6 linked regions of the Homo sapiens genome follow. The protein of the gene in region 2 purifies or fractionates together with the protein of the main gene of each other region. This does not show direct contact. Each region holds a gene or a part of one and is shown on either strand. Other genes may lie near its edges. The genes, in order: MYH10, DEAF1, LMO7, CDC42BPA, SP3 and SUB1.

Region 1 (3,500 bases), on a different chromosome or scaffold from region 2:
TCCTGCAAAGCAAATCACTGGTGAGTGGTACACTGTTAAACACCAGTATTATCCAGATTGGGTACCAATGTATTATGGAGTGAAATAAATGTATTTGACAATTACAAGTGAAGAATTAAACTGAACAAAATATCTCCAATGGTCTCATGAACTCTATCAGGTAAACAATAATATGAACACTTAACAGCTGCAAAGCCCTCTGGTACAACGCAGGGTAGGGTAAGAAGAAAGTCAGGAGAACAGTACAAAATGTTAGGAGAAGGAAAAGGATTAAATTGCCACATTGACCTGAAAAGAACTTCTGAAAGGATGGCATTTGGGTCAGGAGTTGAAGGAATAATAGCTTTTTGGTTGTGGAGAAGTTGAATTTCACTATGAGGGTTGGGACCATTCACGTAAATATTGATCAATAGGTACAGATCCCCTGTTATATACCAGGGACTAGACAAAATGCTCAAGATACAGCGTGGAACAGATGACTCTCCTCATAGTGTTTAGTTGTAGAAGAGACTGAAAAGGTGAAAGTCATTGGTAATCCTACTACCCAGTAAAGACCCAATGAATATTTGTTCCGTTTAAAAAAAAAATACACACGTGTATGTAGTTTTCCCCACAAAATTGGGAACATGCTGTGTAATTACACTTTTGTGTTCTACTGGGTTTTTTAAAATACTAAATTACAAGCATTTCCCCATCTAGAAAAAGTACTGATAATATGTAAGATGTCCCAATTTGATAAAATAATTTTAAGATATATAATCTACTGCTTCTAGACCTGTTCTAGAAGTTATTTGTTAAATTATTCTAATTTATAGTCACCTGCTAAATTTAAGCATCTAATTACATGTCCAGTGTAAAATTTAAGAAGTGTGTGCGTGTCTACTGACAGCAAGACAGTTTCCTAAGTGCTCTGTAGGATATGCAGTTTACACCTGATAAGAATAGTAAGAGAAACTTGTCATATTTTGTTATAGTTGAATATTTTCTTTTAATAGATTCTACCCTTCTGAAAGGTGGAGTGTGTATCCTATTATTTGTTCTCAAATTTACCTGTGATGTTTCCCACCTTGAAGCCATGCCTCCTTTCTTCTTTTTTTTTAAATTTTTTATTTTACTTATTATTATTATTATTATTATTATTATTATTTATTATTATTTTGAGACAGAGTCTCATTCTGTTGCCGAGGCTGGAGTGCAGTGGTGTGATTTCAGCTCACTACAACCTCTGCCTCCTGGGCTCAAGTGATCTTCCTGCCTCATCCTCCTGAAGAACTGGGACTGCAGGCCTGTGACACCAAGCCCAGCTAATTTTTTGTATTTTTTGTAGAGACGGGGTTTCGCTATGTTGCCCAGGCTGGTCTTGAACACCTGGACTCGAGCAATCTACCTGCCTCGCCCTCCCAAAGCGCTGGGATTACAGGCGTGAGCCACCCCACCTGGCCTCCTTTCTTTTTACCAGTGTGCAACGTTTAAGTTGGAAAGAGACAACTTGTTAATAGTGTTATTAGACCAGTCCCTAGAGGCTTTTAAAACTGTTATGCAGAATGTACATGTATCTATGAATGTTTTCTGTATTGCCCTCTCCAAAGAGGATGTCTTAGAAGACTAATGCAAGTTTAGGTATAAAATGTGTTAGCAATTTTATTTGTATAGAAGTTTTAATAACATTAATCACATGTTGTGTGATTTTTTGTTTCATCTTATTTTGCGGTTTTTGTTTTATCCAAGTCTATAACCTTTAAGACATCAACATGTTATTTAAATTGTTATGAATTAGTCTAGAATTTGGTTTTCAACCTCTTTTTCTACTCTAACATACCTGCTGGTAGCAGTGGCGCACCATGGCAACCACAGAACTTTGGAGCAATGGTTGTCAAATGTGTCCCAGGACCAGCAGTGGCAGCAGCATCTGGGAACTTGTTAGAAATGCAAATTCTGAGGCTCAGGCTGGACGCGGTGGCTCACGCTTGTAATCCCAGCACTTTGGGAGGCCGAGGCAGGTGGATCACCTGAGGTGAGGAGTTCAAGACCAGCCTGACCAACATGGTGAAACCCCATCTCTATTAAAAATACAAAAATTAGCGGGTCATGGTGCAGGCCTGCCTGTAATCCCAGCTACTTGGGAGGCTGAGGCAAGAGAATCACTTGAACCCTGGAGGCAGAGGTTGCAGTGAGCTGAGATTGCGTCCACTGCACTCCAGCCTGGGCAACAGGGTGAAACTCTGTCTCAAAAAAAAAAAAAATAGTTCTCAGGCTCTACCCTATACCTACTGAATCAGGGACTCTGGGATAGAGCCCAGCAATCTGTATTTTAATAAACCCTCTAGGTGCTGCAAATGCATGCCTGAATTTGACAGCCGCTACTATAGAAGATGAGTGTTTGTAACGCATTACATTGCAACAAGTAATTTCTGAAGAATCTTAGCTATTTGGTTCTAGTAAATTATTTTTTTAAATTTATTTTTGTTTGTTTTTGAGACGGAGTCTTGCTCTGTCACCCAGCCTGGAGTGCAGTGGCACGATCTCAGCTCACTGCAACCTCCGCCTCTCAGGTTCAAGCAATTCTCCTGCCTCAGCCTCCTGAGTGGCTGGGATTACAGGCACCCACCACCACGCCTGGCTAATTTTTTGTTATTTTTGGTGGAGATGGGGTTTCACCATGTTGGCCAGGCTGGTCTCGAACTTCTGACCTCAGGTGATCCACCCATCTCGGCCTCCCAAAGTGCTAGGATTATAGGCATGAGCTACTGCACCCAGCTGGTTCTAGTAAATTATTAGTAGTAGTTAAAGGGCTAGATATGCACCAACACGCCTGGCTAATTTTTAAATTTTTCTGTAGAGGCGGGATCTTGCTATGTTGCCCAGGCTGGTCTCAAATATTTGGCTTCAAGCACTCCTCCCACCTTAGCCCCTCAAGTTGCTGAGATAACAGTTATGGGCCATTGTGCCCAGAAGTTGGTTGAATGTGTAACCACTATCAGTGATTAATCTTTTAGGATACAGATAGAGCCCTTTAGAATCTAGAGAACGTTATAGCACATATATACACACGCTAAGTGCATAATATTTTTATACCATTTCAGGGATTTTGTTGAAGTTGAGATTAGCTGATGGACTCAAGAACCTCTTAACAACCTTAGACTACTTTATGATTTCCTCTTGCCTACAAAGAACCTCTAGCATTTTTGGCTAGGGGAGTGGAGTGAACAGAGGGGAGAAGTGGGGATTTGATAGAGCAAGAGTAGGTACTCAGTTGGCTTCTTCTGTTGGTTTGAATGAAGTGATGGAAGCCATGCCTATGAAATTTATAATAACCTGGAATTTGGAGTAGCAGCAAAAATGTTTAAGTTGGTATCAAATCCCAAAAAGATCCTGTCAGGCAATCATGATGAGTCACATTAGAAAGATGATGGATGTAAAATCCTGCCATTTGGTCCAGAAAGCCAGTGCACAAGTAGAGGAGGGGACATAGCTTAGCCACAAAGTGATGGAGCTTCCTC
Region 2 (3,245 bases):
TTTGTATTTTTAATAGAGACGGGTTTCACCATGTTGGCCAGGCTGGTCTCAAACTCCTGACCTCAAGAGATTCACCCGCCTCAGCCTCCCAAAGTGGTGGGATTACAGGTGTGAACCACCACACTAGTCTCTGCCTTTTGATTGGAGTGTTTAATCTACTTTTTTGTTTTGTTTTTGTTTTTGTTTTTGTTTTTGTTTTTTAGACAATCTCACTCTGTCGCCAGGCTGGAGTGCAATGGCACGATCTCAGCCCACTGCAACCTCAACGTCCCGGGTTCAAGTGATTTCCCTTCCTCAGCCTCCTGAGTAGCTGGGATTATAGGCATGAGCCACCACGTCCAACTAATTTTTGTGTTTTTAGTAGAGATGGGGTTTCTCCGTGTTGGCAAGGCTGGTCTCGAACTCCTGACCTCAGGTGATCCACTCGCCTCAGCCTCCCAAAGTTCTAAGATTACAGGTGTGAGCCACCGCACTGGAACTCGGCCTGTTTTGTTTTTTGAATTGAGACAGAGTATCACTTTGTTGCCCAGGCTGGAGTGCACTGGCGTAATCTCGGCTCACTGCAGCCTCCACCTCCTGGGTTTAAGGGATTCTCGTGCCTCATTCTCCCGAGTAACTGGGACTGCAGGAGTGTGCCATCAGACCCGGCTAATTTTTGTACTTTTAGTAGACACAGGGTTTCACCATGTTGGTCAGGCTGGTCTTGAGCTCCTGACCTCAAGTGATCCGCCCGCCTCGGCCTCCCAAACTGCTGGGATTATAGGTGTGAGCCACCACACCCAGCTGTTTTGTTTTTTTTTTTAAGTGGGGTCTCTCTCTGTCACCCAGGCCAGAGTGCAGTGGCACAATCTCAGCTCAGTGCAACCTCCGCTTCCCGGGTTCAAGCAATACTCCTCCTTCAGCCTCCCAAGTAACTGGGATTACAGGCACCCGCCACCATGCCCGTTTTTGTTGTTGTTGTTGTGTGTGTGTGTGATGGAGTCTCGCACGGTTGCCCAGGCTAGAGTGCAGTGGCGCAATCTCGGCTCACTGCAGCCTCTGCCTCCCGGGTTCAAGCGATTCTCCTGCCTCAGCCTCCCAAGTAGTTGGGATTACAGGCATGCACCACCATGCCAGGCTAATTTTTGTATTTTTCGTAGAGAGAGGGTTTTGCCATGTTGGCCAGGCTGGTCTTGAACTCCTGGGCTCAAGTAACCCTCCCACCTTGGCCTCCCAAAGTGCTGGGATTATAGGCATGAGCCACTGCGCAAAACCTAATCTCATGTTTAATGTAATTATCAATGTGAGTGGATTTGTGTTTATATTTGCAGTTTATGTTTCATGTTTTGCTCCTCTGTTCTTTCACTGCCTTCTTTTCTGTTAAATGTGTATTTTCTAGTTGTGTTTTCTAGTGTACCACTTCAATTCTTTTGTTGAACATTTTTAAACAGTATCTTTAAAGTTGTTATTTTCTTACTGCTATAGGTATTACAATATACATTTTAATTTATCTCAGTTTCAGTAGGAGGATAGAATTTCCTCAAGCAGGGAAAGTGTACTGCAGAGGCTGAGTGTATACATTCCTGGCAAACACTATTTGGGCCCCAATATAAGCACTTACTGAGCTCCTTTCACCTACAGAACGAACACATCCCGTTCTTTTAAAAGCTGCCTTCCAGCCGGACCTCCAGCCCAGGACACCCTGTCCTCAAGCCTCCCTCAGATCCTGTTCTTTAAAAAGCTGCCTTCAGCTGGGCACGGTGGCTCACGCCTGTAATCCCAGCACTTTGGGAGGCCGAGGCGGGCGGATCACGAGGTCAGGAGATCGAGACCATCCTGGCTAACATGGTGAAACCCCGTCTCTACTAAAAATACAAAAAAATTAGCTTGGCGTGGTGGTGGGCGCCTGTAGTCCCAGGTACTCGGGAGGCTGAGGCAGGAGAATGGCATGAACCCGGGAGGCGGAGCTTGCAGTGAGCCGAGATCGTGCCACAGCACTCCAGCCTGGGAGACAAAGGGAGACTCCGTCTCAAAAAAAAAAAAAAAAGGCAGTGATAATTTTAAAAATTAATTGTAGAGGACTTGGTATGTACACAAAAGTATACACGAGTTTATGCATGTTATGAAGCCCCAACAGGAATCCCCTGCTCCCAGCACCGCCTGGGTCAAGTCCACCCACCTGCTCCCAGCACCGCCTGGGTCAAGTCCACCCACCTGCTCCCAGCACCGCCTGGGTCAAGTCCACCCACCTGCTCCCAGCACCGCCTGGGTCAAGTCCACCCACCTGCTCCCAGCACCGCCTGGGTCAAGTCCACCCACCTGCTCCCAGCACCGCCTGGGTCAAGTCCACCCACCTGCTCCCAGCACCGCCTGGGTCAAGTCCACCCACCTGCTCCCAGCACCGCCTGGGTCAAGTCCACCCACCTGCTCCCAGCACTGCCTGGATTGAGTCACCTACGTGCTGTGGTGGCAACACTTTTCTTTTAATCCTTAACTTTGGAAAATGTGAGACGTGCACATGAGTTGGATCGCCCAGGAGAGGCCCGTCGCCCTCACCTGTATCAGCTGCTTTAGCGCCTGCCCTCCTGGCTTGTCCCCCTCTCTCTTTGGGCTGAGGGCTGAGCATTTTAAAGCAAGCCCCACGCATCATTATTTTCATTTGTGAGGCCTGGATCACTGTAAGTCAGATTTGGATTGTGTTTTAATTGGATTTTTAGTCACTGTTTTTATTTCATTACTTATTTTTGGTTTTTATTTGTTCGTTTGTTTTTGGTTTTGTTTCTGTTTTTGAGACAGGGTCTGGCTCTGTCACCCAGGCTGGAGTGCAGCGGCGCGATCTTGGCTCACTGCAACCTCCACTTCCCAGGTTCAAGCGATTCTCCTGCCTCAGCCTCCCTAGTAGCTGGGGATTACAGGCACCCGCCACCACGTCCGGCTAATTTTTGTATTTTTAGCAGAGACGGGGTTTCACCATGTTGTTCAGGCTGGTCTTGAACTCCTGACCTCATGATCTGCCTGCCTTGGCCTCCCAAAGTGCTGAGATTACTGGCATGAGCCACCGTACCCAGCCTATTTTAGGTTTTCTATAGACAGGGTCTCGCTTTGTCACCCAGGCTGCAGTCCAGTGGTGCCATCACGGCTCACTACAGCCTTGATCTCCTGGCTCAAGTGATCCTCCTGCCTCTGTCTCCCAAGTAGCTTGGACCACAGGCATGAGCCACCACACCCAGCTAATTTTAAAACATTTTTTTTTTTTTATAGAGATA
Region 3 (3,500 bases), on a different chromosome or scaffold from region 2:
GTCATATAATTTACCCCTCACTACAGGGAACACATCCAGCCACTGAAATGGTTGTACATGTTGACATTTCCACCACATACTTGTACTCTGGGTACTTTTATTTCCTTTAAGAAAAGCAACTATTTCTGAGAGCTGCTTACATTATAAAGTTATATTTAATTTACAAATGAAAATTTTTCTGAAAGTTACAATTCAACATGCTTAAAGCTGCAAAGAGATTTTTAATCAAGTTAAAACAGCTTTCCTATGACTTGAGAGTAGCAAATGTTTAAGCATCATGCAGATGAGCTGGAAAGCGGATAATGTGCCTTTGCATGGCACACGGAAAGCATGCAGGGACCCTGGTTTTTAAAATCAGTGGCTAACAAGTACTTGCAATTTGTTGCCTGTGGCTCAGTTACACCTTTGGCATCTAGAATGGTTATACTGCTTTACATTTAGTAGCTTCCAACATTTCTGAATTATCAAAGTTATAAAAAGCTATCAAAACTAGAGATTCTTATAGATGAAGTAAATCCTCATAAGGGAAGATACTTAGCTACTGAGGCTTGAGCAGATTAAAACATCTGTCATCCTTTAACTCTCTTCCTCTTGCTCAAACACTATTAGCCCTTAGATTCACAAAGTTACAGAAAGTTTGGTGGAAAATATTAAGATATAGCCACCTTGTGATTTTGTACTAAGAATGAATAAATGATTTACTGTAAATGTAGTTTTTGCCTGTAATCCCAGCACTTTGGGAGGCTGAGGTGGATGGACCACCTGAGGTCAGGAGTTTGAGACCAGCCGGACCAATCTGGTGAAACCCCGTCTCTACTAAAAATACAAAAATTAGCAGAGTGTGGTGGCATGCAACTGTAGTCCCAGCTACTCAGGAGGCTGAGACAGGAGAATTGCTTGAACCTGGGAGGTGGAAGTTGCTGTGAGCCAAGATTGCGCCACTTCACTCCAGCCTGGGCGACAGAGCGAGACTCCATCTCAAAAAAAAAAAAAAAAAAAAATGTAGTTTTTGCAACAGTGATATTAGAAATTAAAAATATTTTTGCAGTTTTTGAAGGTCTATTTTGCACTATAAATATAGCCATGTTATAACTTTTTTTTCCTAATCAGGAATCTTGAAAATATAATACTTCCAAATACCACCTAGGGAAGTTTAATGCATCCCTACTAACGAAGCTCCCAGTTGGCCGATTATAGGATAATGTCAACTGGGTGTATTCTAAACTTGAAGTAAATGCTAATATTCTTTTTCCATCACAGATTTTCTAAAATGTAGTAATTTGGGCTTTAGCATCCATAAATCAGAATTTTAGTCTATGTAGCAACCAAATACCAAAATACATATACCTAATCTTAGGCAAGTGCTTTTGTGACTTTTAATCAACTCATTAAATTTTTAAAAAGGAAAAAAGAAGGGATGAAGCTGAAGTTTAAATTTTTAATAAAACAAATAATTTTATCTTGCACTGGGCACCAAGACACAGAAATATTACCATTAGGTTGCAAGATAAACATTTCCCACTTAAAAAATATCATGCACAGCACACAACAACCCCATTTAGTGACATGCCATGCCAGAAATACAGTAAGTTATACAAAGAACAAACAACACGCACAGATTTTTTACTGTGAACCACACAACTTACCCATTCTCACCATAAATCTTTTGAAAGAGTCTAAGAAACCAGAAAACCAAAAATTAAAAAGTCATTTTTCCCAGTCATATTAGTTTCTAAACGTTCAATGTCTTCCACTTAAGAATCTAACTGGAGACGGACAAATCTCAAAAGGTCACTTCTTCCATCACATTCTTGATCATGTCTCAAGTTCTCATCAATTTCCTATCTCAGGAAATTCAGATTAAGCAAAATGAAGAATTTCCTCAATTTACTCTGAGCTAACAAATCCATATGAAAAGGCTTCCCATTGTCAGGAACTGTTAAGTTAGATTTGGATCCTCTAATTTTATTCAACCTAATCAGATTTGTCCATCTCTAAGTTCCACAAACTGAACATTCATCAAAAAGGCAAGTTGCATAATACAAACTATCAAAATGGCCATGATTACATACACATAAAATTCAGCAGACAACAAATACCATTCATGCATTTTAACATCAACGTTTACTCTGAACTTCATAAATAAAAATAAGTTACAAATGATAGTCCAAGAAACCTAGGCCAAAACCAAAAATTAAGTTAAATGAAATTTGCAATGCCATATTTTAAGGGAAAATTTCACCCCCCCAAAAAAATCAGACACTCTAAAATGTGAGCAACACATAAAACCAAACTATAACCAGACTGTTACAAAAATGCCTGAACATGAGAAGTCCAGAAACTTCATATTGGTGGATAGTACCACAGTACTGCTTAAGTCAAAGGCAAGGTTTATGTATATACAGTCTTAAACAGGCCTAAATAAGTTATTTAGAGATATGCAAATATGGAATTGCACTTTTTGTACAAAACGACTGAGGGTTTTTCAAAGCAAATTAAATTTTACGGGATGCTTCAAAATGGCACGCGACATGCAGAGTTGAGCAACACGATGAGCTGCTTTCTCGCATGAGAAAAGTTACACAAGACCATCCATTACAAGCAAAATCCTTGCAGAAACACACTCTGACCTCTCCACCATCAGCCTTTTCTTGTGCCTAAGTCTGCTGGCCTCCCGGATGGCCTCCCATCTCTTCAAGTCAGCCTCACTGCAGGGGCCAGGGGTGAAACTGATGGGAGGCACGGTAGTTCCCAGTTTCCAGGACTGAATCTTACGTGTCAGCATGTCATCTTTCTTCTGCCGATATGAAGGAACTAATATTCTACAGCTATTACTTTTTTCTTTGGATGGGCATGTCCTTTCAAGTACACAGAGAAATTTTGCTTGAATTTCTGGAGGAAGAGTCCAGGGTTCGGGAAAAGGGACTGGGTGGTATCTATCTGGGGCCCCAGACAGCGGCACTTCTTTCTTCTGTGCTGGAATTCGGCGAACAATCATATCATCTTTTTCCAAATCCGGAAGTACAAGTTCACCTTCTCTACACTGTAAAATTATATCTCGCTCTACAGAATCATCTTGCTCAGAGAACTTTCTAAAGTCTTCAAAAGCTCGGAGAACATATGGATTTGCATGGAAAGCCCCAGTCTTTCTGACAAAGAAATCATCATTCTCTAAGTCAGGATCCAGGGCTGCCATCTCGAGGTCATCTCTTCTATAGCCTGGTGCATAAGAGAGATTCTTCCTGCGGGTTATGAGCCTTGGGCCAGAAGTGGGATCAATTTTGGTATGTGTTTCAGAAGACAAGATGTCATCAGAGTATGTTTGGAGGGCCTGAAGCAGTAAAAACTGACTGATGCACAGAGAGGAAAAAGGAAAGAGAATCTTATTAAGCTTAGGGAGAAAAGGTAATTAGCAGATCGACTAGCCAAAGGTGATTAGCAGACCAACTAGCCAGTTACTGAGGGTAAATCATTTTAGAGGACCATTGTGGGGACTCTTG
Region 4 (3,500 bases), on a different chromosome or scaffold from region 2:
ATGGAAAAGGGAGATATGGACCTGAATGTGACTGGTGGTCTTTGGGGGTCTGTATGTATGAAATGCTTTACGGAGAAACACCATTTTATGCAGAATCGCTGGTGGAGACATACGGAAAAATCATGAACCACAAAGTTAGTATGTTTTACTTTTGTTCAAATTAATGTGGTAAATAACACATATAATAAAACCATTTTTAAAGAGAAAATATTTTTCTAAAAACAGTGAACAATCACATTTCTATCCTAGTATGGGACAGGACAACATAAATAGTCAAAATCCATAAATTATTCATAAGTTATTAGTTCTAATTTTCTTGTATTTTATTAGAGATGCCGCTAAGTAGGAAATTAAGTGGTCTCCCCAGTAGAATAACAAAGGTCGTAAGTAGAGAATTTAGATCATTGCTTACTATAGTATATGTATAATCATGACTAGAATATGTGTAAAAAAATTTTCAACTTTAGTGGTAATAAGTGCAATACAAATTTAAAATAAGGATGAGATACTTTTTTTTCTTGTCAAATTAGCAAAGATCAAAAGAAAAATAGTACTCTGTACCATAAATAATGCAGTGAGATGGGCATTCTAAGACATTAATAGGAATATAAATTGGTGTAACCTTTCTGTTCAGGAAGTTTACAGGTGTGCACCTAGAGCCTTAAAAAATGGTTAGAGGTTTTGATTGAGCAACTTCAGTCTAGGAATCTACCCTATGACATTCTCAGTAGAACAAAGATATATGTACAAGGATACCTATTCTAACGTTATTTATGATCACAGAACACTAGAAGCAACACAGACACACAACAAGAACAAATTAATGAAACGTTAATATATTTAGTACTAAGTGAAATAGACTGTTCATAATAATAAGAAGAAAGGTTTTATTAGCAGTCTTAGAAGATTGTGAGCAGTTGCAAATACTTAGAATATGAATATCCGATAGAAGGGAATGATAATCTATTCTTTTTAATTTGTTCTAGTGAAGCAATTATGATTAGTTGCTTTACATGTATAAAAATCAGTTTTATAGGGTTTATATTCTTCTTCCTGTTTGCAAAGATAATGTTTCATATAGTTATAAAGAGTTGAAAGACTGGAAATAGCAGCAGGGTTGTAAATAGCATGTACATCATTTGAATTAGAAAAAAATATTGTAGTATATATTTAACAGCACAGATTACAGCTTCAGTTCAAATTCTGGTTCTGCCACTTCCTAGATGTGTAATGTTGAGAAAGTTACTTGAATTCTGTGTGTCTTTATTTCTTCTATAATATTAGCATAGTAGGAGTACCCACCTAAAATGACTGTTTTGAGGGTTAAATGAGTAACGTACTTTAAATAGTGTCAGATACATATTATGTCCTTTAAAAATATTTATTATTAGTTAATCATTAGTATGTAACTTATATGACCATTATCAATCATCTATCTTGATTTAAATAGAGTCAAATTCCACTACTTTGAAGTAATTTCTCTTCATTCTGATAGCAGTTTAAGATATCTAAGGTACAATGTATTCTTCTTTCTATAGCGCATGCATGATTGAGTCATATATGAAATTAAAAGTCCTAGGAAAATGATCTTCTGTCATTCATCCCTGTATTCCTTTAGTATTAGTACTTTGCACCAACATGCAGTTATTAGATATATTTAAAATAAAATGTATTTTTAAGAAAATAAATAAGTCAACCAACTACTTAGTATGTTAAACACTGATTTATATTTTGTTTCTGTTTTTCTCTGTTTAGGAGAGGTTTCAGTTTCCAGCCCAAGTGACTGATGTGTCTGAAAATGCTAAGGATCTTATTCGAAGGCTCATTTGTAGCAGAGAACATCGACTTGGTCAAAATGGAATAGAAGACTTTAAGAAACACCCATTTTTCAGTGGAATTGATTGGGATAATATTCGGAACTGTGAAGCACCTTATATTCCAGAAGTTAGTAGCCCAACAGATACATCGAATTTTGATGTAGATGATGATTGTTTAAAAAATTCTGTAAGTATGACACTGTGAAGAAGTTCTGTCCCTCTGTTTCTTTCTACTATGGTTATATAGTAATTTTTTGGTTTATAAGTATTTTGCTAGGATGATTTTACAATGATCAGTTATTAGTCAGTGATCATGGCTTCTGGTGCTTATTCTGTCACAAATCAAATTAAGAAGAAAGTTAACTGAGGTGAACATAGTTATTTGTGACTAAGAACAAAATTAAAATTCAAAGTTTTACCTCTTAGATAAGTTATGCCATTAAGCTTCGTAAGAGAACAAATTAGATATTTAAAAAAGCAGATTTTATGATTGTAAAGTGCAGAGGTTGGCAAATTTCTCCCTAAAACCATAAAACTGGACAAAATTATCAAAATCAACCATGTCAGGGCCTGATACAACAATTGAAGAGAAATAAATTGAGAAGCATTTATTTGTGAAAAACTGCTGAACTTTAGTTTAAAGTCACATATACCACACACGTCCATCCCCACTACTGACTTGGTCTGGGACAGTAGTACTAGTAGCATGGAACTGGATAGAAAAATCAGCAGCTTTGCTGATACAGAGGGCAGATTCCAGGACTAAATACCCAAGCCCAGTGTGTTGCTGCTAACAATAGCAAACTTGGTAGGAAATCAATAGGGAAAATAGTCCACAGACGTGGTATAGCTCTGAGGTATAGCCCTGCCTGAGGTGAATACAGACCTCAAGCCAATTATTCGGCCAGTCCAATAGCCAAATAATTCAACCATTCTTAACTTGTGAGCCATGCCAAAACAGGCCAACATAGTATATTGACCTCTGCTATAACCCTTTAGGTTATATGAGATTAAAATTTAGGAAAATAAGAACTTAAAATTTTTGAGTTTTTTGCCTTTTTAGCCTTCCTCTTTTTTTTTTTTTTTTTTTTTTTTTTTTTTGAGACAGAGTCTCGCTCTGTCTCCCAGGCTGGAGTGCTGTGGCACAATCTCGGCTCATTGCAAGCTCCGCCTTCCGGGTTCACGCCGTTCTCCTGCCTCAGCCTCCTGAGTAGCTGGAACTGTAGGCGTGCGCCACCACACCTGGCTAACTTTTATGTTTTTAGTAGAGACGGGGTTTCACCGTGTTAGCCAGAATGGTCTTGATCTCCTGACCTTGTGATCCGCCCTCCTCAGCCTCCCAAAGTGCTGGGATTATAGGCATGAGCCACTGCTCCCGGCCCCTTTTTAGCCTTCTTAATTTGAGCTTTTATTTTTATTCAGTTATTTTATTTACTATGGCTTTAATCCTGTACTAAAAATTTTTATGTTAATGTTATATGACTTAACAAAATCTTTATTTTTAATTTTTGTGGGTACATAATCGGTACACGTTATATAACTTTTCACTGAAACAGTGAATACTATTTCAATACAATAAGCTGTGATCACTGTTTGATAACTGATAATTGTAAAACCATCCTAGTACTGTATTCAAGGCAGATAAAAATTTCTCATACTTTCCTGTCTAAACTTCACAAAGAA
Region 5 (3,500 bases), on a different chromosome or scaffold from region 2:
TTCTTAGATATCTTTTTATTGATGTGCAAAAATTTTTGGATTGACAGTAACTTGGTTATACATGACACTGAAATGCCTTACTTTGTATGATATTCCATAGTATATTAAAAATGGTAAAATTGCATGGGTTTTGTAGGTACTTTTGGAATCTAGAAGAAATGAAATTTTACCAAGTTATATAAAGAGAAAATTGAATTTAACAATGCGAATGGTAGTCTAACCAAATGCATCAATCCTGTGTGGTTTAGTGTAAAAATGAGAACATGTTGGTATTTATCTATTGTAAGATAAAAAAGCTGGTGGGTGAAAGAAATCATGTTATGATAAAAAATTTTGTAATTTTCTTGATGACTGGAATTTTTATTATGCATAACTGACAAATCAAGTTTCCAAGCAAATGTTACATAGTGTAGGCTTTACTTAGCTTATCAATTTGTCATTTTGAAGCTAATTATTTTAATTAGGTTAACTATGTACAATATTTTAAGCATTACTCTTGTAAGATTTTGAAAACTACATTTTAACATGGAACTCTAGGGATAGTCACCTTTTAAATCCTGTTGAAAAGCCATGTTTAAGATTTAATTTGCCAAAATAATGTCTTGTTAATATTCTTTCAATAACGAAGTTGGGCAATATAACCAATGTTTAAAAAAGTTTAAAATGTATAAGTTGAGGCATTTGGGTGGTAAGAGAATGTTATAGTGAATTATCCCTTTTCTTGACTATTGGAGGACCAAAAAAATAAGGTGTATTGCGTCTTAGCAGTGATTTTTATCCAATCTTGTTTCCAAAAACCATGTCTCCCAGGGCCTTAAAAGCCATCATGTAAATTACCAGTAAAGTGTAACATATGCAAACATAACAAAATCACTTCCATAGTGACGATACTCCAACCATATGGATATTAGTCATAGAAGAACTAGAGGTTTTATGATATTTTTTTAAGTCTTTTTTTTTTTTGTCTAGGTAGTCAGTCTGCACTTAAATATCAATCATTTTCCTTTTTTGCTTCTTCCCTTAAAATTTATATGTATCCAGTACATTTAATTGAGAAGCGTATGTTTTTTATTATGCTGTATTTTCTTTTTATTTTTTAATTATTGTTTATATTTTCAATTCAAAAATGTACAAAATAAAGTTACATTGCTGGTCTTGTAAGAGCTATACAGTTTTCCTAAATGTATACCTGTAACTGCAGCAGTTCACCTATTTCAAAAATTTGGAATTCTGTTCATTTGTTATTCTTAAGACCACCTCAAATTTAAAGGCTACCTTATTGTACGTTTAAAGTGTATTATAACAGTGTGGTAGTTAATAAAACACTATTTTTTTTTCTTTTGAGTTTGTTGTATTCCTATGCATAAAAAATATTGCAGTGGTATGGGGTAAGAATTGGTGGTTTATTTTTCTTCAACTTGGCTTTTTATTTTTAGATTCTTGATTTTAGACACTGAATTGTAAACAGGCATTTATTTGAAGAAGAGATATATAGAGACACTGGTCATTTACTAATTTTTTACCTAGAGTAAATAAGAATGAGCTTATTAAATAAAATTTTTGAAAAAAAGTCTTAGCCCTTAGCCCACATTGATTCATATCAGTTTTATCAGTACCATTTTGCAATTTTTTTGTTTTCCGTTTTAAAGCAATGCAGAATATTTTGATTTATCGAAAACCTGAATTTACATTAAGACTCCTGAAAATGATAAGACAAGCGTTGGTAACCATGGCAGGAGTTACTTGAAAAAGTTGCCTTTGAATTTGCATGTGTTTCATCATTATAAAGGCAGAGTAGGAGGAAAGAGTATTAATGTGATTGTGTATTGTAGATGTTTTAAAGTAAAAATCAAGTTTCTTAACACATGTATACAGTGGGGGTAAAGATGTCCATTTTCTGTTTTCCAGGCCCAGTCTGACTCTGTCTGTAATACCTGATTGCATTGGAGAACTCTAGACACGCATAAACATGGACAGTTTTTCTAAATGTGAGACTTAAGCCTGTGATGTAAAATAGGAAGTTCTACTTGGAATAATATAAAGGAACCACTAGAATTTACAATTATTTTGAAGTTACAGGGATTAGATTTTGAATCTTAAAATCCTTTAGGTAATTTTTAGAATTTTTAAATTAAGATTAATGTGAAGAGAATTAAGTGAGCAGCAGGTGGTTCACTTGAGCAAACTGCCCATTAAGTCAGATTAAACCATTTGAATGATAGTAGAGATGTTTTAAGTAATACTGGATTTTTACAGTAAGTTTATGGTGTACTTTGAATCGATAGGTGTCCATGCATATTTTATGAATTCGTGGAGAATGAATGCAATGAAGAAAGTAAGTAGTCTTGAAAATTATTTAAATAAAGTTGTAGATTTTTTTAGTGCCCCCTAGGAATATATTAGTGAACTTTGGAACTTTTACCAAAGTTATGTAACCTCAGTGTAGATAATTTTAAATATTTCTATTTTTATATTTTAAAATGTTGAATATACTCTGGAAACAACATTTGAAGATTTGCTCTGATGTCAACTTTTTCTGGTTATAAAACCTATTAGTATTGTGTATAATTCTCAGGGTAGGTATACTCTAATAGGTGTTTTGTCAATTGCTTTATTTTTGTAAAGGCTAGAGTTAGTGCATATTGAATATATTTATGTACAAATAATTCCTGTTGTAACATTTAGTGGACGCGATTATCTGTATACCTCAAATTTTAATTTAAGAAAGTATCACTTAAAGAGCATCTCATTTTCTATAGATTGAGGCTTAATTACTGAAAAGTGACTCAACCAAAAAGCACATAACCTTTTAAAGGAGCTACACCTACCGCAGAAAGTCAGATGCCCTGTAAATAACTTTGGTCTTTCAAAATAGTGGCAATGCTTAAGATACTTAAAAATACACATACATATAAGCTGAAAGCATGTCAAGCCTATTTCATAGAAAATAGTTCTTAAACAGTATTGTTCATTAGAAATTGCTGGGGAGCATTTTAGAGATTCCATAGGCCTGGTAGCCACCTCAGCTTACTAAATCAACATCTCTGGAGATGGAGTGTATATGTGTTTTGAAACAGCTGCTCAAGTGGTTCTGTTAAACACTCCTGCGTTACAATCACTTAAAATAGAGCAAGCATCCCCTTAGGCTCTTAATTGTAGTTTAAATTCCAGTACTGCCTACTCAGACCCAAAAGTTTTGTTTTATGAAAAATTTGTATTGTGTTCAATATTGTTTGAAATTTGGGGTTGTTGCATAAATGATTATGGAATAACATTTGGTTTTAAAATAATATAAACTGACATGTTATGCTACCTGTTACACAATTTGGTTTTCAGTTTTAATTATATGAAGCTGGTAACAATCGTTTTTGTTGTAAAAGAATTATTTTTCACTAAACAGTATGTTTAAAACTGACTGCCATGAATGAGTACTAAGTCTTTTGTTGTCTGACAATAAGCACAAAACAAATTAATTGATATCTTTGGTACAAATTTGATAT
Region 6 (3,500 bases), on a different chromosome or scaffold from region 2:
TTTCATTTCACCTTCAGGATCCATCCAATATTCTCTAATATCAATTAGCACTTTGCCTTTAAAATCGCGAACACTAACGTACCTCATTTTCCCAATCTGCAAAAGAAACAAACATAAAAAGAGGTGCTCCTTTCAAGAGTGGTATCTGTTTCAATTGTATTCATATTCACAACTTGCTGCATGCTCACTCTACATCTAATCATGAAAATGACTACTGCTGACCCTTGAACAACATGGCTCTGAACTGTGCAGGTCCCACTTATATGCATATTTTTTTCAATAAATATACTGGAAAAATTTTTGCAGACTTGACAATTTGAAAAAACTCACAGAACAACTGCATAGCCTAGAAATAACGAAAACATTAAGAAAAAGTTAGGTATGTCATGAATGCATAAAACATACCTAGATATGAGGTTATTTTATCACTTACTATCATAAAACATACAAATCTATTATATGAAGTTAGAGAGAAATGTAAACAAAGATGGAGTATTAATTCATAACTGCATAAAATTAACTACAGTAGTGTACTAGTGTTAACTTCATAGCCACTTCCTGTTATCTCAGTGTACTCAAATGTTACAAGTATCTGCTTAAAACACCTTGTGTAAAACACCATGTGATGCTAATCATCTCTGCTGAGCAGTTCATGTCTCCAACAAATTGCGTATTGCAGTAAAAAGTGATCTCTCACGGTTTTCACATTATTTTTCATCATGATTACTGCAATACCATAAACTTTAAATAACACCATGAGTCCTATACAAAGTGCCCCTAGTGATGCTGAAAGTGCTCCCAAGAAGCAGAGAGAAGGCATGACATCACAAGAAAAAAACTGCCAGAAGCAGTGGTGCATGCCTATGATCCCAGCTACTCAGGAGGCTGAGGCCGGAGGATCACTTGAGCCCAGGAGCTTGAATCCAATCTGGGCAACACAGCAAGATCCTGTCTTTAATTTTAAAATGCAAAAAAATAAAAATAAAAATAAAAATAAAAAAGTTGAATTGCTTGATATGTACCACGGACTGAAATCTGCAGCTGTGGTTGCCTACAATTTCTAACAGATGACATATTTTATTAACAGATGACATATCTTATAAACAGACAACGTAAACTAATGTTATTGATAAACACCATACAGTACAGTAAAATGTAATTTTTCTCCCTTATGATTTTCTTAGTAATATTTTCTTTTCTCTAGCTTACTTTATTGTAAGAATACAGTATATAATACATATAACATACAAATATATGTTAACTGTTTATGTTACTGTTAAGGCTACCAGTCAACAGTAGGCTATACTTAGCAGTTTTGACAAAGTCAAAAGTTATAACCAGATTTTCAACTGCACAGGGGTTGGTGCCTTGCATTTTGACCCTGCATTGTTCAAGGGTCAACTGTACTACTCTCAGTATCAAAACTGCAACCAAAGGAAATTGCTGTTTAAACTATCATATGATCCAGCAATCCTACTTCTGAATATATATCCCAAAAAATTGAAAGCACAGACTCCAAGAGACATCTGCACACCCATGTTCATAGCAGCATTATTCACAAGAGCCAAGAAGTGGAAACAACACAAATATCCACCCAGAGATGAACTGATAAACAAAATGGGAGAGGGGGGGTGGAATAGACACACAATGGAATATCAATTAGCTTTTAAAAAAGGAAATCCTGTTACATACTACGTCAATGAAATAAGCCAGTCATAAAAAGGAAAAAGGTAATACTTTATGATTCCACTTACATGATGTCAAGTTCACAGGAACAAAAAGTAGAATGGTGGTTACCAGGGCTGGGAGAAGGGGAACTGTTGTTTAATGGCCACAGAGGTTCAGTTTTGCAAGATGAAACAGTTTCGGCAATCTGTTTCACAACAATGTGAATATACTTTTATGGTTTTTACCAGCAAAAAAAAAAATCATTAGGAAGCAATATTTTGCAGTACAAACTACAACCAAGAGGAATCCACAGATGCAACTAGCTACACTGCTTCACCAACCATTCTGAATATACGAATCCAGAGTTCCAGTCAATAACAACCAAGTTTTTCCTTTTCATGTTCACTTCAAATAACATCTTTAATGCACCTCACTCACAGTCAGATTGAGAACTTAAAAATATTCACAGAAAATTATTTTTCAAAAATCTTATATATCTGCTTACCACAAATTACAAATTCCAGAGAAAAGAACAGGCTTTCCTCAACAAAGTGTCTCTTAGCACTTTCCAAGACTCACTATAATATAGTAAGGGAAGACAATGCAGTACTGGAGTAAAGACAGACATAAGAGGTCAGTGGAACACAACGGAGTCAAAAAATACACACGCATTGGATATATTCACTGATTTTTTTGGGGGGAGGGGGTAAAATCCAAGGTAATTCAAAGGAATAAGAATACTCTTTTCAACAAATGGTGTTGAAACAACAGGCTATCTGCATTTGGGGTGGGGAAGACTCTAAATCTCTATCTTACATCATACACAGAGAAATTAATTCTACATGAATTATAGACCTAAATGTGAAAACTAAAACTATAAAACTTCTAGGAAAAAACACTGGCAAAAATTTTTGTGGCCATGGTAGGCAAAATACGTCTTGGACAGAAAATAAGCATTAAGCAAAAAAGGAGAAAAATCGATAGAATAGACAATCACACTAAAGCCTTTTTTAAAAAGATGCTTCAGAAAATAAAAAGGTAAACCAGAAACCTAAAGAAAATATTCACTCAAGTTGGAGCCACAGGGGTCTTGGCCTTCGAGGAGAGCCTGAGGAAGAAGCAGAACCGTGGACGTGAAGAAAATGATGAACTGACCAGAATCCGTGAGGACCTCATTTCCAAGAGAGAGAAGATCTGTCACAGACGCCCCTGACCAACTGCCAGTCCCCCCTTATTCTGTCTGTTTGATTCTCTCTGGTTTCATATTTTCCTCTCTGTTAACCTCCACTCATTTTTGAACTAGATTGCTTTGAAAACTAAAGTTTCCCTGAAGTCTAAAAAAAATATTAATTATACTTACATCTGACAAAATATATAAAGTGTTACAACTCAAATGACCTGGCATTTTAAGTGGCCAAAAGATACTCTTCACAAAAGATATAAAAATAACCAATAAACACACTAAAGATGTACAATGAATTAAGACATGTACATGAGGGAAATGGAAAGTAAAACCACCATGAGCTACCATTATACATTCAATGTAACTAAAAAGAAAAAAACTTAAAAGACTGACAATATCTAGCGAGGATGTGGAGCAACTGGAATCTCCTAAGTAGTACCGATGGCTGTGTAAAATGCTACAGCTACTATGGAAAATGGTTTGACAGTGTCTTATACAGTTACACATTTACCCTACGACTCAGCAAATGTATCTGGTATTTACCCAAAAGGGAAAAAATGTCCACAAAATGACTTGTACAAGAATATTCACAGCAGTTGTATTCCTAATAGCCCAAGACTTGATACAATCCCAATGTCCACCCAAGGTG

What was found.
Region 1: the proteins of DEAF1 (region 2) and MYH10 purify together in Homo sapiens (affinity purification with mass spectrometry, with the first as the bait; one large-scale study listed by BioGRID). This does not show direct contact.
Region 3: the proteins of DEAF1 (region 2) and LMO7 purify together in Homo sapiens (affinity purification with mass spectrometry, with the first as the bait; one large-scale study listed by BioGRID). This does not show direct contact.
Region 4: the proteins of DEAF1 (region 2) and CDC42BPA purify together in Homo sapiens (affinity purification with mass spectrometry, with the first as the bait; one large-scale study listed by BioGRID). This does not show direct contact.
Region 5: the proteins of DEAF1 (region 2) and SP3 purify together in Homo sapiens (affinity purification with western blotting; one study listed by BioGRID). This does not show direct contact.
Region 6: the proteins of DEAF1 (region 2) and SUB1 purify together in Homo sapiens (affinity purification with western blotting, with the first as the bait; one study listed by BioGRID). This does not show direct contact.

The regions. Positions count from the first base shown.
Region 1 is NC_000017.11:8,624,226-8,627,725, reverse strand, and holds part of MYH10 (myosin-10), read left to right. Parts: intron 1-3,500. UniProt on the Homo sapiens protein: Cellular myosin that appears to play a role in cytokinesis, cell shape, and specialized functions such as secretion and capping. Involved with LARP6 in the stabilization of type I collagen mRNAs for CO1A1 and CO1A2.
Region 2 is NC_000011.10:646,978-650,222, reverse strand, and holds part of DEAF1 (deformed epidermal autoregulatory factor 1 homolog), read left to right. Parts: intron 1-3,245. UniProt on the Homo sapiens protein: Transcription factor that binds to sequence with multiple copies of 5'-TTC[CG]G-3' present in its own promoter and that of the HNRPA2B1 gene. Down-regulates transcription of these genes.
Region 3 is NC_000013.11:75,807,330-75,810,829, reverse strand, and holds part of LMO7 (LIM domain only protein 7), read right to left. Parts: intron 3,351-3,500; coding exon 2,631-3,350; intron 1,677-2,630; coding exon 1,647-1,676; intron 1-1,646.
Region 4 is NC_000001.11:227,143,993-227,147,492, reverse strand, and holds part of CDC42BPA (serine/threonine-protein kinase MRCK alpha), read left to right. Parts: coding exon 1-134; intron 135-1,755; coding exon 1,756-2,004; intron 2,005-3,500. UniProt on the Homo sapiens protein: Serine/threonine-protein kinase which is an important downstream effector of CDC42 and plays a role in the regulation of cytoskeleton reorganization and cell migration. Regulates actin cytoskeletal reorganization via phosphorylation of PPP1R12C and MYL9/MLC2.
Region 5 is NC_000002.12:173,906,374-173,909,873, reverse strand, and holds part of SP3 (transcription factor Sp3), read left to right. Parts: 3' UTR 1-3,500. UniProt on the Homo sapiens protein: Transcriptional factor that can act as an activator or repressor depending on isoform and/or post-translational modifications. Binds to GT and GC boxes promoter elements. Competes with SP1 for the GC-box promoters.
Region 6 is NC_000005.10:32,595,557-32,599,056, reverse strand, and holds part of SUB1 (activated RNA polymerase II transcriptional coactivator p15), read right to left. Parts: intron 97-3,500; coding exon 1-96.